Regions from separate parts of the Homo sapiens genome. Here region 2 is linked to region 1. Evidence: fine-mapped expression QTL. Tissue or cell type: gastroesophageal junction. Region 1 holds a variant in brackets; the other region holds the start of a gene. All regions are shown on one strand. Distances are between the middles of the regions.

The links. PIP is the estimated chance that this variant, and not a neighbour inherited with it, causes the effect.
Region 2: it holds the start of ATG101, and the variant in region 1 is fine-mapped to the expression of ATG101 in gastroesophageal junction (GTEx, PIP above 0.99).

What each region holds. Positions count from the first base shown.
Region 1 is chr12:51,811,302-51,819,404 of GRCh38, reverse strand. It overlaps SCN8A (sodium voltage-gated channel alpha subunit 8), which reads right to left. Exons shown (of 27, transcript NM_001330260.2): 27 at 6,541-8,103. It overlaps TMDD1 (transmembrane and death domain 1), which reads left to right and starts at 4,480. Exons shown (of 1, transcript NM_001386737.1): 1 at 4,480-5,484. The coding sequence starts at 4,512. The coding sequence ends at 5,465. FIGNL2 (fidgetin like 2) reads left to right here. Exons shown (of 2, transcript NM_001384995.1): 2 at 1-1,506. RefSeq lists an enhancer at 4,281-4,780 and a silencer at 4,889-4,968. The variant T/C (reference allele first, on the strand shown) is at 3,111.
Region 2 is chr12:52,066,241-52,074,343 of GRCh38, reverse strand. It overlaps ATG101 (autophagy related 101), which reads right to left and starts at 4,366. Exons shown (of 4, transcript NM_021934.5): 1 at 4,102-4,366; 2 at 3,861-3,990; 3 at 442-769. The coding sequence starts at 693. RefSeq lists enhancers at 4,018-4,733, 4,611-4,900.

The DNA of each region.
Region 1 (8,103 bases):
CCAGGGCCGAGGCCTAGGCATGAATGTGGGGAGTGGGCTGTGGGGTTTGAGAGAAGGGAGGCCTTATTCCTCTCCTGCTGCTCCCCACCCCCTGCCCCACCCAACCCCTCCGCTGAGTGTTTTCTGTGAAGGGCTATCCAGAGTTAGGATGCCCTTGCCCAATTCCTTCCTGAGACCCAGAAGGTAGGGTGGGAGGGCCCAAATGGGAAGGTGACCTAAGCAGAAAGTCTCCAGAAAGGTCATGTCCCCTGGCCCTGCCTTGGCAGAGGTCCCCAGTGACTTATGCTAGGAGGATTCCATCTGGGTAGACAGTCTGGCCACAAAATCAGCTACTGGACCTCAGCCATCTCTGCTGGAGGCTCTGAGGAGGAGTGAGCATCCCTCACTTGTGGGGGCTCTGTGAGGAAATGTGCCTTCCCCATTCCCCCGGAGTCCTAGGTCTGGAGCTCCAGGGCTGGGAGAGGGTGAGGGAGATGGGCAGGGGTGTTTTCTCTGACCTTGGGGGCTTAGTCTCAGTCCTGCCTGAACTTTCCACTAGGCTTGGAACCCTTCCAAGAACCATATTTCTCTCCTTCCCACCAATTTTCCCTTGATGAGGCTTTAGCAGTTTGCTCCCACCACCCCCAGCCCATTTCACAACTCTGATCTTAGTCCAAAGCAGGGGACACGCCCCCCCACCACCACTTTTTCTCTCTCCCATCTCAGCCTCCTGTGCAGTTCCTTGCCTGCCCGTGCATTTCCTAGAGTCTACTGCCTCCCCCCTGGCTGGGAGGGTGTCTGGGGGGGATCTTTCAGGGGCCCTGGCACCCAGGGCCTGTGCTGGCCTAGGAGTGCTGACCAGAAGGCTGCTCTGTTCCCCCCCACCCCCGTTGCTTTCTGGCCCCCTCTTTGGAGCCAGCCACCCACAGGGCTTTGGTGCCTCAGAAGCAGTGGGCTGCCGGGTCACAGCCGCAGGCTGCAAAAGACCCTCGGAGGGAGCATGGAGTGAGGGGTTCTCTCTCAGGTGTGTATGTATTGGGGGGTGGGGGTGGGTGGAGGGTGTCAGGGAAGTTGGGGTGGGATCCCAGCCTTCCCTTCAAGAGGCAGGGAGCTCTGGGAGGTGGAGTCCCCACCGCTTTCTCTACTAGGCTCCTCCTGTTCCCCAGGCTTGGGGAGCTTTGCACAAGGAGACTGCCCCCAGCCTAGTGGCACCTACCTCATGGGCTCTGGGGCAGGTAGGGGAAGGGCCAGTCCAGCTCTGGTAATGCTGGGGGGAGGCATACCAAAGAATCCAGGGGCAGGGAGTGGGGAGGGTGACTTCCGAGCTGGCCTCTCCCCTTCCTCTACCCAGACTGGGGCTGGGATCCTCTCCTCCCGCTGTAACCATTTCTACCTCATTTTGCTGCGTGTTGTACATGGACGTATTTATCTCCTGTCTGACGATGCTCTGCAGTTGTGGTCTGTCTACCTCAGAAGAGACTGTATTTTAAAAGAAAGTATTACACAGTATTAAAGCGATGACATGTGGTTTGCAGAAGATTTCTCGGGGGCAGTGGGATGTGGGAGTCCTCTGGGAGATGTCTGGACACCTGTGTATGCTGGTGCCCTGGGCGGGGTGTTCCTAATCCCCTAGTAACAAGGAGCAAGGACTCCTGTGACTCACTGTGATACAGTGAGTACCTACAGGAATGGGCACTGAGGCTATGGGGAAGAAGCCATGGGTAAGGGGCCTTCCTGCCGTTCTGAGCTCTGACATTCAGCACTGGGGCAGGCTCATTGTATCCCCAGAGCCACAAAATAGGGGGGCAAGGAAGGGCTCACATGTTTGTTGAATGAGTGAAGAAATGAATGCATGGAGGAAGGGGGTTGCTGAAGAGAGGGAGGAGCCATCCAGAACCTGCAGCAGCCTTCATTGAATAGAGCTAGGGTTATACTTGTATTCCATTCTCAGTGGAGATAAAGTGGATAGAGGGCGGGGTGTGGAGACGGCCAAGTTCCAATGTCTCAGGTGACGTGGTGTCCTTTGTCTACCATCCCCCCATCCATCAGTCCCCTAACTCTATCTGTGACAGCTCATCGTAAACTGGGAGACTGAACAACCTAGGAACACTTGCTGAACAAGCTCTGTAGAGATGTCAGTGAGAGATTTGGACCCACAGCTCCTAGGTCCTTGAATACTCTAGGCAAGATTGCTGAGCATGCGCAAGAGCACAGGGGAGTAGTGCACCCAGGCTCCCTGCTATGGCTCACTGCACACATACAGGAGGCAGCGTGAGCATCAGGGAGACCCTGCAAAGCAAAGAGGACACAAATGTGAGTGTGCCTGGAGGTGGGGGCTCTAAGGCACTGCCCCAGAGTCCATTACCACAAGCCTCTCAGCCCTTGGAGGTCCAGACCCACCTGCCCCCACTCCTCTATTTTGCACCTTACTGTGTGCAGACATTGGGCCTGGCACTGAGGATACAGAAGGGGTCAAGCACAGCTGCTATTCCTGGAGCCCATGTCTAGGTGGGAAAAGCTCAGAAATTGATCATTTAAAAATACAACTGGATAAAGCTGCTGGGGATGGGGGACCACATCAAAGTAGTCTTTATATTCATACACCTAGTGCAATTATCTGGTACATACAAGACATTGAATAGATGTTTCTTGAATAAATCCTCTAATTTCCAGATGAGTGCCCTGGTGGAGGATGCACAGGTTATCTTAAGAATGCCAAGAAATGGCTGGGGGCGCGGTGGCTCACGTCTGTAATCCCAGCACTTTGGGAGGCCAAGGTGGACGGATCACTTGAGGTCAGGAGTTTGAGACCAGCCTGGTCAACATGGTGAAACCTAGTCTCTACTAAAAATACAAAAATTAGCTGGGCATGGTGGTGCACACCTGTAGTCCAAGCTACTTGGGAGGTTGAGGCACGAGAATCACTTGGACCTGGGAGACAGAGGTTGCAGTGAGCCGAGATCATGCCGCTGCACTCCAACTTGGGTGACAGAGGGAGATTCTGATACAAAACAAAACAAAACAAACAAACAATGCCCAGAAAAGATCCTGACTTGTGGTGGTCTTGGTGGGGTGTCAGGAAAACTTCCTACCCAGGAGGGGAGGGGGATAGCTGGGCAAAGTATGGAGGC[T/C]GGAAACTGCATCTTACGTGCTGTGCCACGAGTCTTGTTGTGTTACAAGATAGTGAGGGCAGGAATTGGAGGAGTGAGGCTGGAGGAGTCAGCGGGGACCTCACTATGGAGGGCCTTCCATGCCCTGCTAGGAGCTGGGGCTCTATGATGAAGCCTTTGTGGGAGTTTAGGGGGCCGAGGACAGGACTGATTTGCAAGTTAAGAATTCACACAATGGCCCTGCCTTGTGGCTCATGCCTGTAATCCTTGCGCTTTGGGAGGCTGAGGCAGGAGGATCCCTTGAGCCCAGGAGTTCCGAGACCAGCCTGGGCAGCAGCAGGAGACCCTGTCTCTTAAAAAAACAAAAAATTCACACATTGACTCAACAAATCTTTACTGAACACTTATTATGCTCTAGTTGCCATGGGGACAATGTATGGACCTTGCAGTCTAGTTGGCGGAGACAGTAAAAAGGCCGAGCTGCAGTGTGCTGTGGGGCAGATAGGAGGAGTCCCTAATGGGGACACCACTAAGGGGTGTGACTCGGAGTCAGGGAGGGCTTCCCAAAGGCGCCTGACAGCAGGAGGAGTGCAGGCCGCGATCAGAAGGAGAGCCAGAGCCAAGCTTCCTTGGGGGAAATGGAATAAGTGCAGGTAGGCAGGGCCCCAGTGTTGGGGGGCAAGGATGGGGGCTGGAGGACCAGCAAGAGAGGAGGAGGGTCTGGACTTGCACTGGAGTGGGAGAATGGGATGATGGATTCATTTAATAAATACTAAACTTTAGTATTTGGTAGACAAGAGGAGAATTTAGGAATTGAGGCCAGGCATGGTGGCTCATTCCTGTCATCACAGCACTTTGGGAGGTGGTGGCAGAGGCGGAGGCTGGAGCTGGAGACCAGCCTGCGCAACACAGCAAGACCCCTATCTGCACAAAAGAAAATAAAAAAAGAGAATGTAGGAATTGATTGAATATCGAAGTTAATGGAGAGCAAGGGGTCTAGGGCTTTTCGTAAAGGGGAACGGTTGGGGAGTACATGAATTAGAAGAGATGTTGGTAACTTGTTCAGTTTGAGGTATTAGTGGCTATTAGGAGGCCTAGGGCAGGAGCTACAATGTAAAAGCCCAGAATCCTAGCCTCCTGGGGGGCTGAGAACCCCCTTCCTGGGTGTTGCAAGCCCTCTTACCCCAGTTCCTGAGTTTCGTGAGACCCTCCAACAAGTGCCATGTCGGAGTCCCCGTCTCCGTCGCTGGGTGTTGGCAGCCCCCTTGTCCCCAGTCCCCTCCTCCACTAGGCTTCCCGACTGTTCGGAGCCTCCTCCCTCCCACAATCCGCGGGCGTTCGGAACCCCTCCCCCATCACCGGCGCGGAGCCCGTCCACGTCCCCGTCCCCGCACAGTCCTCGGTCCCTGGTTCCCGCCAGGGATGGCGGCGCGGACTCTGGCGAGCGCCTTGGTCCTCACGCTCTGGGTTTGGGCGCTGGCTCCGGCGGGGGCCGTGGACGCTATGGGCCCTCACGCAGCCGTCCGTCTGGCCGAGCTGCTGACCCCGGAGGAGTGCGGCCATTTCCGGTCGCTCCTGGAGGCGCCCGAGCCCGACGTGGAGGCCGAGTTGTCCCGGCTTTCTGAAGACCGGCTGGCGCGGCCTGAGCCGCTCAACACCACGTCGGGGTCTCCGAGCCGGCGGCGGCGGCGAGAGGCGGCCGAGGACCCGGCGGGCAGGGTAGCCGGGCCTGGAGAGGTGTCCGACGGCTGCCGGGAGGCGCTGGCGGCCTGGCTGGCCCCCCAGGCCGCGTCCCTGTCCTGGGACCGCCTGGCTCGGGCCCTGCGGCGCAGCGGCCGCCCGGACGTGGCCAGGGAGCTGGGCAAGAACCTCCACCAGCAGGCGACGCTGCAGCTGCGCAAGTTCGGGCAGCGCTTCCTGCCGCGGCCCGGCGCCGCCGCCCGCGTGCCCTTTGCCCCGGCCCCGCGCCCCCGGCGCGCCGCGGTCCCCGCGCCGGACTGGGACGCCCTGCAGCTGATCGTGGAGCGCCTGCCGCAGCCCCTGTACGAGCGGAGCCCCATGGGTTGGGCGGGGCCGCTGGCGCTCGGCCTCCTCACCGGCTTCGTGGGGGCGCTGGGCACCGGGGCGCTGGTCGTCCTGCTCACGCTATGGATCACTGGCGGCGACGGCGACCGGGCGTCGCCCGGCAGCCCCGGCCCGCTCGCCACAGTGCAGGGCTGGTGGGAAACAAAGCTGCTCCTTCCTAAAGAGCGGCGCGCGCCCCCGGGGGCCTGGGCTGCAGATGGGCCAGATTCTCCCTCACCTCACAGTGCCCTTGCCCTCAGCTGTAAAATGGGAGCACAGTCTTGGGGCAGTGGTGCTTTGGACGGTTTATAAACGTTAAGAAATACCGAAAGAGCAGAGAGTTTGTTAATCCGTTGGAAAGGAGCAGCAAAGCCCGTGGGACTGCCGGTGGAAGAGGGGCTCAGGTACCAGGCTCCCAGGGTGGCAGGTGCACCGCCCAATTCTTGTCAGCTTAGCTTTTTTTTTTTTTTTTAAGAAGGAGCCTCGCTCTGTTGCCCAGGCTGGAGGGCAGTGGTGCGATCTCTGCTCACTGCAACCTCTGCCTCCGGGGTTCAAGGATTCAAGCGATTCTCCTGCCTCAGCCTCCCGAGTAGCTGGGACTACAGGTGTGCGCAGCCACGCCCCGCTAATTTTTGTGTTTTTAGTAGAGACGGGGTTTCGCCTTGTTGGCCAAGTTGGTCTCCAACTCCTGGGCTCAAGTGATCCGCCTGCCTGGGCCTCCCAGAGTGCTGGGATTACAGGCGTGAGCCACTGCGCCAGGCAGATTCCTTCTTATCTTGCAATTATTCTTCCACGAAGAGTTACCACTTATTGCGCACTGTGTGCCAGGCCTCATGCTAACTAGTTACATACATTATTTGATGTACTCTTCAAAACTCAAGGAGGAAGGTATTGTCTCCATCACACATGCGGAAACTCGGCCACAGCTAGTTAGTGGCATAGTCACGTTCTCGAACCTACGGCCGTCTGACCTGAAAGTTTGAGCTCCAGAAGGAAAGGTGTGTGCGCAATAAGGGGCTTGAAAAACGTGATGGGGACCAGAACAAGATGTGCAGCTCCCCCTCGGGGCTACTCTGGGGCTCTGCTGGAGTGTGCAGAGGCAGCACCACTAGAGAGGGGTGTGCCCACGTGCAGGGCGCCGCCTCCAAGGTGCTGCCCCCCGCCAGGCAAGGCCTCCTGACATGCTGAGTGGAGTCCCAAACCTTTCCCACACACCTGGGAGTGGCTAGGGCACTGCCTGCCCAGCTAAGGGGCTGAGCCGCGGTGAGCCCTTACGCAGACTTCTGTCCCCGCCACGGGACAGAGTGGGGTCCTGCGAGGTGGTGGTGCCTGTCCACCTTGGGCTTCAGTGTGAGGGCAATGACAGAATGACAGGCCAGTCCAAGAGGAGAGTTGAAAACAAGATTGACGTAACCCTTTATTGCAAATTCTAAAGTAAAAAGATGTACAGTACAAAGTAAAATTGAAATTTCATACTATAAACTTCCAATCCACTTACACATTCTCATTTCTCAAGCATTTCTGCCATTTCCGCATAAACAGAACAGGGAACAAGTCGAGGAGGTGAGGGAAGGAGATACAGCAAGGGGAAAAAATTGTCTTGAATAATCACAAACCCCAGAAGCAAGTGAAAGGAAAGACATTTTCTCGACCTGCTGTCCTGGTGATGAGAAGCGGGGGTGGTTGGAGCAGTGCAGTTTAAAATGGCTCTCAGAATAGCAGCATTTATGGTACCATTTCAGCTTCCTTAAGTCCAATAATACTTTGCCCTTCCCTAGCGCCTTTGCCTCTGTATCTCAAAACGCTTTACAAAACATTTAGTTAAAGCCTCACAACACCCCTGTGAGGTAGGTCAGTATTATTATCCCCATTTTACAGATGGGGAAACTGAGGCACAGAGAGGTTAAGTGACTTGCCCAAGGCCACACAGCGAGCCAGCGGTCAAGCTAGGGACAGAACACAGTTCTGTCCCTTTTCTGGAACCACTGGACCACACTCCCCTTTACCTATATACATTCTTCACACACACACACACACACCACATGTGCACACCCACCCACCCCACCCCACTTAGCCTCTATGTACAGCAAACAGCAGTGGGGGGCAGGGGCAGGGGGTGCCTCAGGAGTTTTAATGGAGGAAATCTTGGTAATCTTGGAAAGGGAATCCAAGAAAGCACAGAGCTGAACAATGGAAACTCTGTTGCAAAACTTGGGCCCCTCCCAACCCAGACTTCCTCTTCTCTCCTGATGTCCCCCTGGCTGGCAAGTTGCAGCCAATTCTTTAGGGGGTGGGGAGTACCTGAAAATGAACGAAGCTTTTTGCTAAACTGTGGGCAACATCTGAGAAAAGAAAGAGGCATCATTACAGAAGATGCCCAGGACTCAAGTCACAAAGTCATGACCCATGGCGATCTCACCTCCACAGCAGGCCTGGAGGCTGGGGGCCGAGGGGAGGAGGATGGGGACTGACCTACCAGCCATCTCGCTCCAGAGTGGAGCTACTGGAGCGGACTAGAGTGGGCACTTCGAGATCCTCCTGAGAGAGTGTTCCTGAACCAGGAGACATGGCCTAGGCCTAGAGAGGGATGTCCCCAAAGGGGGACAGGGAGAGAAGGAAGAGGAAGCGTGCCCCCACCCCCACACAAATGTGAAGGAGACCAGCCCTCGTCTGTGGGCCTGTCTGGGGCGATGGAGGGCAGGGCCCAGTATGAGCTTGCAGAGTGGAGGCTGTTGGGCATCGCACATGCCCTAGCTTTGGGGCACAGGGATAGGGTTTTTTTGTTTTTGTTTTTTAACATACAGGTGAAAAAGGCAGAAGTAAGGCCAGTCCAGCTGGGTTGGCTGACGTCATCTCTGAGGGCTCTGCCAGGTGGATTAGGTGAAGAGAGGTTTTATGGGCCTCTAAGCACCGGCCAGTAGTGGGGAATGCCACATGCAATGGGTGAGTG
Region 2 (8,103 bases), 250 kb before region 1:
AATGCCACACCACCAAAAGGGACACTCCCATCTTGGATGGCAGCCACCTGAACCAAGCAAGCCGTCCTCTGGGGGAGTTTCATGTGGGAAAGGAAAAGTGGAAGCAGAAGCAGAGAGAGCTGTAACCAGAGAGGTCAAGACCACAGAAGCAAGGATGGCCCCAGGGGACCTGGCCGCCAACACTGCTCAGCTTCCTGCTCTCCCTTTTCCCCCAGGCACATTTATGAGTCTCTCCCTCCCCCACCACACACACACGCGCCCGCGCGCCCTCCCCTGAAGAGGAGCTCTCAACACATCTGTTTCTCAGAACCTGAAAGAACCCGATTCACGCACTCAGGAAGAGAAGGCTGGTTCAACACCAAGCTGGAGTGGAGGAGCACTCGAGGCCCCCCTGCCATCTGCTATGCCACACCCTTACCTTGAACTCCCCGACACCCTTACCTTGAACTCCCCAACAACCTTGCGCAGGGCACGATCCAGTTCCTCAGAAGAGACACGCACATAAGTGAAGTCGATGAAGTCACAGTCAACATCCTGGGTGCCCACGGTGCCAATGGAGTAGGTGCCCTCCTTCTTGTAGTGGAACTTGCCTGTGCTGCGGTGCAGAAGCACCGTGTGCAGCACAGCCAGCATGGCCTCCTCCACCTGCCGCCCCTCCACCGACACCTCCAGCACCTCCGAGCGACAGTTCATCCTGCACCCAGTAACCCACACCAAGGTGTGGAACTAGGATAAAGACAGGGGATCTTCACCCTACCCAAGGGCCACCCTGCAAAAGGAGCCCAGGTCAGAATGCTGACAAGAATAGTCCACGTGTTATCTGTTCACTTCCTTCTAGGCTCAGCTCAGCCTCTGCCTCCACTGGCCCTTCTCTGCATTTTGGCAGCACACACTATCAACGAATCATCAAGTCTCAGGATCAGAAAGTGCAAGAGCTTCAAAGTTATCAGTCCAAATGACAGGCTGGGATTCCATTTTACAGCCTTCAATGTAGTTTACAGCAGATGCTCACTGTGCAACATTTGTCAGGTACTAGACATCAAAGGCAAGCACGGCCCCTGCCCTCAGGCTGACAGGATGAAGAAAAAGCACGCAACTAAACATTATCACCACGGAGAGAGTACAGGGTGGGAGTAAGAAGTACAGAAAGATTGGAGTCTGATTTCCTGGGACCTTGAATGAACAGGTTAAGGCATTTGGACTCTGTCCTAAAAGCAGCGAAGAGTCAATGCATCACTAAGCCAAGATCAAATCTGTGCATCAAAAAAGTACCTCTAGGCCGGGTGTGGTGGCTCACATTAATCCCAGCAACTTGGGAGGCCGAGGCAAATCACTTGAGCTCAAAAGTTCAAGACCAGCCTGGGAAACATGATAAAACCCCATCTCTACCAAAAATATAAAAAATTAGCTGGGCCTGGTGGCAGGCGCCTGTAGTCCCAGTTACTTGAGGGGCTGAGGCAGGAGGATAACTTAAATGTGGGAGGCTGAGGCTGCAGTGAGCTGAGATCATGCCACTGTGCTCCAGCCTGAGTGACAAAGCGAGACCCTGTCTCAAAAAAAACAAAAATACAAAGTAATAAAATAAATTTAAAAAAAAAAAGACAAGTACCTTTGGCTAAAGGGCAAAGAATGGCTCTAAACCGTATTGGGGTCACAAACTGCTCTGAGAAGTGAATGAAGCCATGAAGACTGGGCTTTAAAAACATGACTCTCACACACACACATATACCAAATCTCACCTATTTCTAGAGACACCCACATCCACAGACTCCAGGGTAAAAACTTGTGGATTTAAGGCACAAAGGCTGGGCACGGAAGTCAGTTAAAGACCACTACAGTAGATGTAGTTACAGAAGCAGCATAATCAGGTGTGGGCGGTTTTTCATGTCCTACAGTCCTGGGTTTGAATCCCACCTCATCTACATCTTGCTCTATGACCTTAAGCGAATCACTCAACCTCTCTGAACTTCTTATCTGTAAATGGGGATAGTAGTGAGAATTAAGGTAACACATGTAAAATACAGTAGAATAGTGGTTGAAAACGATGACTTGAAAGCCAGACAACCTGGAATGGAACCCCAGCTCTGCCACTTGCTCCATGCTCATGATCTTGGGCAAGCTGCTTAACACCTATCTGCCACATATACAAAAGAGATAATAATGGCTACCTTGAAAGGGTTGAGGGCTGAATGAGCTAGCATGTATAAAACACTTAAATAAGTACCTGACAAATGGTAAATATCCACTAAGTATTAGCTGCTATAATTCATTATTACATTGTTACTGCCAAGAGATGATGCAAGGCTATAACACAGCAGTGGTAGAGAGAGTAGGAAGGAGAGAACAAGAGACTTGAGAACTAGAACATAATAACTAAATACATGCCCAGAGGGAGAGGGAGCTTCAAGTTCCTTATAACTCAGAGTATTCAGCTTGCAAACCTCCCCTGACTGGGAATTCACTAGCTCTCACAACAACCAGTCAATGTTCAGGAAGTTCTATTCAGTTATTCTGATTTATTTATTTATTTTATTTATGAAATGGGGTCTCACTCCATCACCCAGGCTGCAATACAGTGACACAATCTCTACTCACTGCAACTTCTGCCTCCCAGGCTCCCATCCCAGCCTCCCAAGCAGCTGGGAACACAGGCGAACACCACCACACCTGGCTAATTTTTTGTATTTTTGGTAAAGAAAGGGTTTTGCCATGTTACCCAGGCTGGTCTCGAACTCCTGAGCTCAAGAGATCCACCCGCCTCGGCCTCCCAAAGTGCTGGGATTACCGCACCCAGTCCAGTTATTCTTTCTGCTGAAGAATCTGTCTCTTAGTGCTTCAAACCACTTTTAGTTTTAGTTTTGGTACCCAAAGCCACACAAAATAAGTCTCACCTCTTTTCCACAAGTGAGTTTTTATTTAGGGGCAGCTATTCCACCACCCCCTCACCCCTTCTACAGGCTGAAGGTCCCCAGTCCTCAAAAACATGTCTGTTCCACATCACATCTTATCTGCATGGAATCCTAGCAGCTCTCCTCTAAGTATATTTCACTCATCTGGTTGACAGATGGTGAATATAAAAAGTATATTTCAGTTTGTGTCTGCCCCTTTTAAACTGTTGCTCAGCACAGGATACAGGGCAACGGTCTGTGGACCGCACAGAGATCAGGCCAGCTCTGCCTCTCAGCTGGCGATCAGCTCGCGTCTACCTGTACTATCAAGCACCATCACGTTTTGTTTTTGTCTCTACCACTAGGCAAACAATTCCTATATTCTGCTTATAGGGCAGAGACTATATTCCATTCATCACTATAATGGTAATTCCTAGTACCTTCTACAAAACAACTGCTCAATTGAGCCCAACCCAGGAATTCCAGGTTCTTCCAGGGGTTGCTGGATTAGTTTCTCCTACATGCTTGGATCAAGAAGGAGAAGGGCTCTCTTGCTCGTTTTGCCCTCCAGTTTTACTCCATCCAGCAGTTTTCTTCCCATCTAGAGACTCCCGGCTCTGGTCCGGCTCCCTTTCTTCCACGACTTCTCCCTCTTGTGTCCCCCGCAATCGTTCACACAAGCCACACATCTCACTTGTGCCCCAAGCCTGGGCTCCTCCCTCATTCTACGTGCTATTTTAGGATCCACTCCTCCAAGAAGTCAGTCCTGACCAACCCCATTCTCCTTCCCACAGCTGCCACATTTGGTCTGTGAAAACCTTGTTGTCCCCTGCCCCACACAGTGAGCAGTGAGCAAGCAGGGCCCACCAGAGTAGGGTCTGGAAAGTCTCGTCCCTCTTGTCCCCCCGAGTGGCAGAGGCTAACAGCCGCCTTCTCAAGCCTGGCTGGAGCACAGGGTGCGCCCATTCCCACCTTGAGTGTAGAGTTTGGAGCACGGATTCCTCAAGCTCGGCTCATGCCCTTCCTCCTCCTCCTCACGCCCTGGTGCGACCTCCGCAGGTACGCTTCAACCTCCGCACGGCGCTGAGCCACAAGAGACCAGCTAAAAGCAAAACCAGAAAACTTACTTGGCTCCATATCAAGAGACTCGGGACGGACGCAGGAAGGAATTCCCGCCCGGGTCCCGTATCCCCCGCCGCCACTACGCGCGAACCTCCACAGTCCACGTAACCAGGGAGGAACGGACTCCTCGGGTGTCTCGGGGGCGGCGCCCCGCGCCCAGGCTGGCTGGACTCGGAAGCTGGAGGAGCGCCCGCGTTCCACTGCCCCGGGGGATGCCCACGCCGGCACAGGAGAGGGGGCACACGGTTAAAACAGCTCCCACCTCCCCCAACCACAGTCCACGACCAGCCTCTCAGATGCCACCACTCTCCCGGCAGGCTCCAGACCACCTGGGTCGGAGGCTGAGCCGGGACCGGAAGCCGCACCGCCCCCCGCGCGCCGGGAAGCTCACCAGATCCCACGGCCCCGGAGGGGGCACCTGCCCAGCTCGCCGGGCCCCCGCACGCATGTAGCCGCCCACAACATCCGCGTAGTCACAGAAGCACACGCAGATAGTCATGCGTTGCTCTCTGATCTGGGGGCTGCTCCTTTCGTGGTTATGTCTCGGATTTTAAGAGTTGATGGTGATGAAGATCCCCCTCATGTGGACGAGTCCATTCAGCCCACCACCGAGAACGCTGTGGTGTTTCGGCCCGTACAACTCACTTCCGCCATAGAGACTGGAGGGAAGGAGGAGCCCTACGGGCTCTCGGCCGCCTCCCTAGGCCGAGCGGAGTCATCGGCGGCGAGCCTGGCCGGGAGACGCTGACGCGGTGCCCAACTCAGTCCGGACTGAGAGGTCTGGAAGGAACACTGATCACCGCAAGATGAGGGGCGTACCCCGTAGAGAGAGGTCCTGGAGATGAGCCCACACCGCTGTACTGCAGGACGCCCAGTGGATGGCAAAACTTGAGTTTGTTGAATGTGCGTAACAGACGGGATCCCTGGCCCTCCACCCACACAGATGCTGGAGAAAGGGGCTTCATCTCTCAGTGTTGCCTTTATGCAGCAGCACTACTTGATACCCCATGGTGACCAATCTGGTGACAGTCCTTCGGAGGCTAGTAATTCGGCCATTGCTTCTCTGCGTGACCCTCAACATCACTCATCCTTTCTGATGCTCTCTATAAACAGGTGGCTGTTGTGAGGATCACAGGAGATAACTCATATGAAAGATTTCTGTGACCTGTAAAGTCTAATATGAATACAAGTGTATTTTTAGTGCTGTGTAACTTCCTGGAGCGCATTTGGTTCTCCATGTAGATTGTAAGCCCAGAGCAGACAGGGCTTCGAGAGCTCGGTTAATGCACCCACCTCCAATAGGAGGCAGTATTTTTTTTTTTTTTTTTTTTTTTTTTTTTTTTGAGACGGCGTCTCGCTCTGTCGCCCAGGCTGGAGTGCAGTGGCGCTATCTCGGCTCACTGCAAGCTCCGCCTCCTGGGTTCACGTCATTCTCCTGCCTCAGCCTCCCGAGTAGCTGGGACTACAGGCGCCCACCACCACGCCCGGCTAATTTTTTTTGTATTTTTTTTAGTAGAGACGGGTTTTCACCGTGTTAGCCAGGATGGTCTCGATATCCTGACCTCGTGATCTGCCCGCCTCGGCCTCCCAAAGTGCTGGGATTACAGGCGTGAGCCACCGCGACCGGCCAGGAGGCATTCTTAAGGTGTTAGCTGGGGATTACCATGCTCATTTTCTGGCCCATTGGGGTGCCTCACGCCTGTGATCCCAACATTTTGGAAGGCTTAGGACAGAGCATCACCTGGGGCCGGGGGTTCAAGACCAGCCTGGTCGACATAGTGAGACTCCCATCTTTAAAATAAAAATTAAAAATTTAGCTGGGCGTGTTGGTGTACCCCTGTAGTCCCAGCTACTTCAGAGGCTGAGGTGGAGGATCACCTGAGCCCAGGAGGTTGAAGCTGCAGTGAGCTATAATCACGCCACTGCATTGCAGGCTGAATGACAAAACAAGATCCTGTCTCAAAAAGAAAAAAAAAAAAAAGTCGGGTGTGATGGCTCATGCCTGTAATCCCGGTACTTTGGGAGGTCGAGGCTGATGGATCACTCGAGGTCAGGAGTTTGAGACCAGCCTGGCCAATATGGTGAAACCTCATCTCTACCAAAAATACAAAAAAAAAAAAAAAGCCAGGTGTGGTGTCAGGCACCTGTAATCCCAGCTACTTGGGAGGCTGAGGCAGAAGAATTGCTTGAACCTGGGAGGTGGAGGTTGCAATGAGCTGAGACTGCACCACGGCACTCCAGCCTGGGCAACGGAGAGAAACCCTGTCTCAAAAAAAAAAAAAAAGCTGATTTTTCTAACACATGCTTTTATTTCCCAAAACGATAATAGATAACATTTATTAGGTGGAATGGAAAGGTCATGATTTTAAATACCATATATGTGTACATATAAATTTAAACCTGATACTAATCAATCCTGCAATATAGATAAGAAATTGGGCCGGGCATGGTGGCTCACGCCTGTAATCCCAGCACTTTGGGAGGCCGAGGCAGGTGGATCATTTGAGGTCATGAGTTCGAGACCAGCCTAACCAACATGGTGAAACCCTGTCTCTACTAAAAATACAAAAAAAAAAAAAATAGCCAAGCTTGGTGGCACACACCTGTAATGCCAGCTACTCCGGAGGCTGAGTCAGGAGAATCGCTTGAACCGGGGAGGCAGAGGTTGCAGTGAGCAGAGATCACACCACTGCACTCCAGCCTGGTGAAAGAGCGAGACTCCGTCTCAAAAAAAAAAAAAGAAAAAGAAAGTGACTGGGGAGAGGTTAAGTAAGTGGCCCAAGGTCATTCAGTAAATAACAGAGCCTTGAGTTCAAATCGAAAGCTCTTTGCCACTATGGGAGCTCTCTTTCTGGCTGGCTTCTTCAGCCAACTCTCTCCTATGTACCACCACTCTCCAATACACCCCCACCCACCAGTGGTGTCCTGATAAATGCTTCACACCTGCTCTCTGGTAAGGGAAATGCCTTGATTTGTAGCATTTGCCCATTTCCTATCATAGGTGATTTCAAACTACAAGACATCAATGAATGCAGAGTCCAGAACGGATGGATGATTGCATCTTGATCGTCAAGGTTAAAATCAGCCCTTGAGGGCCAGTGCCAGCTGGCTCCAGCACACCACTGTCACCACCTCACCCTTAGGCTTCCCCCTCCCATTCAGTTCTTCGAAACCTGGCTGCACAAGCTCCTCCTCAGGCTGGCCTTTCCACCATCATCTGCTCCCTATCCTCTTCCCTTCCTCCCCACAGTTCTGCCCTTTTTCAGCCCTTGCCTCTTATCCCAGGTGTGGGTGCCTCTCCTGGGAGAAAGAGAAAGCTGCCTGCCCTACACACCAGCGACCTCTTCGGGAGGCTGCACAAAACCAGACGGCAATCAGGAGGAAATATTGAGAGGGAAGGGTCTGTAAGAAGCTGAGAGAGGGACCAAGGGAGGTTGGAACCAGTCCTGGAGTGGAGGAGGTGCCAGAGCCCATCCCCAGAGACTGCCAGTGAGTAAGGGAAGTGACTGATCTCTCTGGCCATCCACACACTCCAACTCAGCCCTTTGCGACCACTAGCCTGACATCATCATCATCATCATCATCATCACTACTACCAATCATTGAACCTTGCTAGGTACAATGCCAGCACTCATAGGCCCTATTGTGCTGATTTTTCCAACTACCTTTCAAGGTAGATACAGTCCACCTCCCCGACACTCCACTCTCTGATTTACTTGATATTATAACTGAAGCCCAGTCATACATAGTGATGCATAGTGGTTTCCTGTGATGCTTAATTTTACGTGTCAGCTTGACTGGGACACAGGGTACCTAGACAGTTGGTTAAGTATGATTCTGGGCTTGTCTGTGGGGTGTTCTGATGAGCCTAACATTGGAATTGGCAGACAGTGAAGCCGATTTCCCTTCCCGGTGTGGAGGGGCTTCATCCAATCAGTTGAAAGCCTAGTAGAACCAACAGGTTGACCCTTCAGTGAGTAAGGGGAACTCCTGCCTGACTGTCTTAGAACTGGGACATTAGTATTTTCCTGCTTTCAGGTTCCAACTGCCTTCAGATAACTGCTTCTCCTAGGTCTCAAGACTGCAATGACAC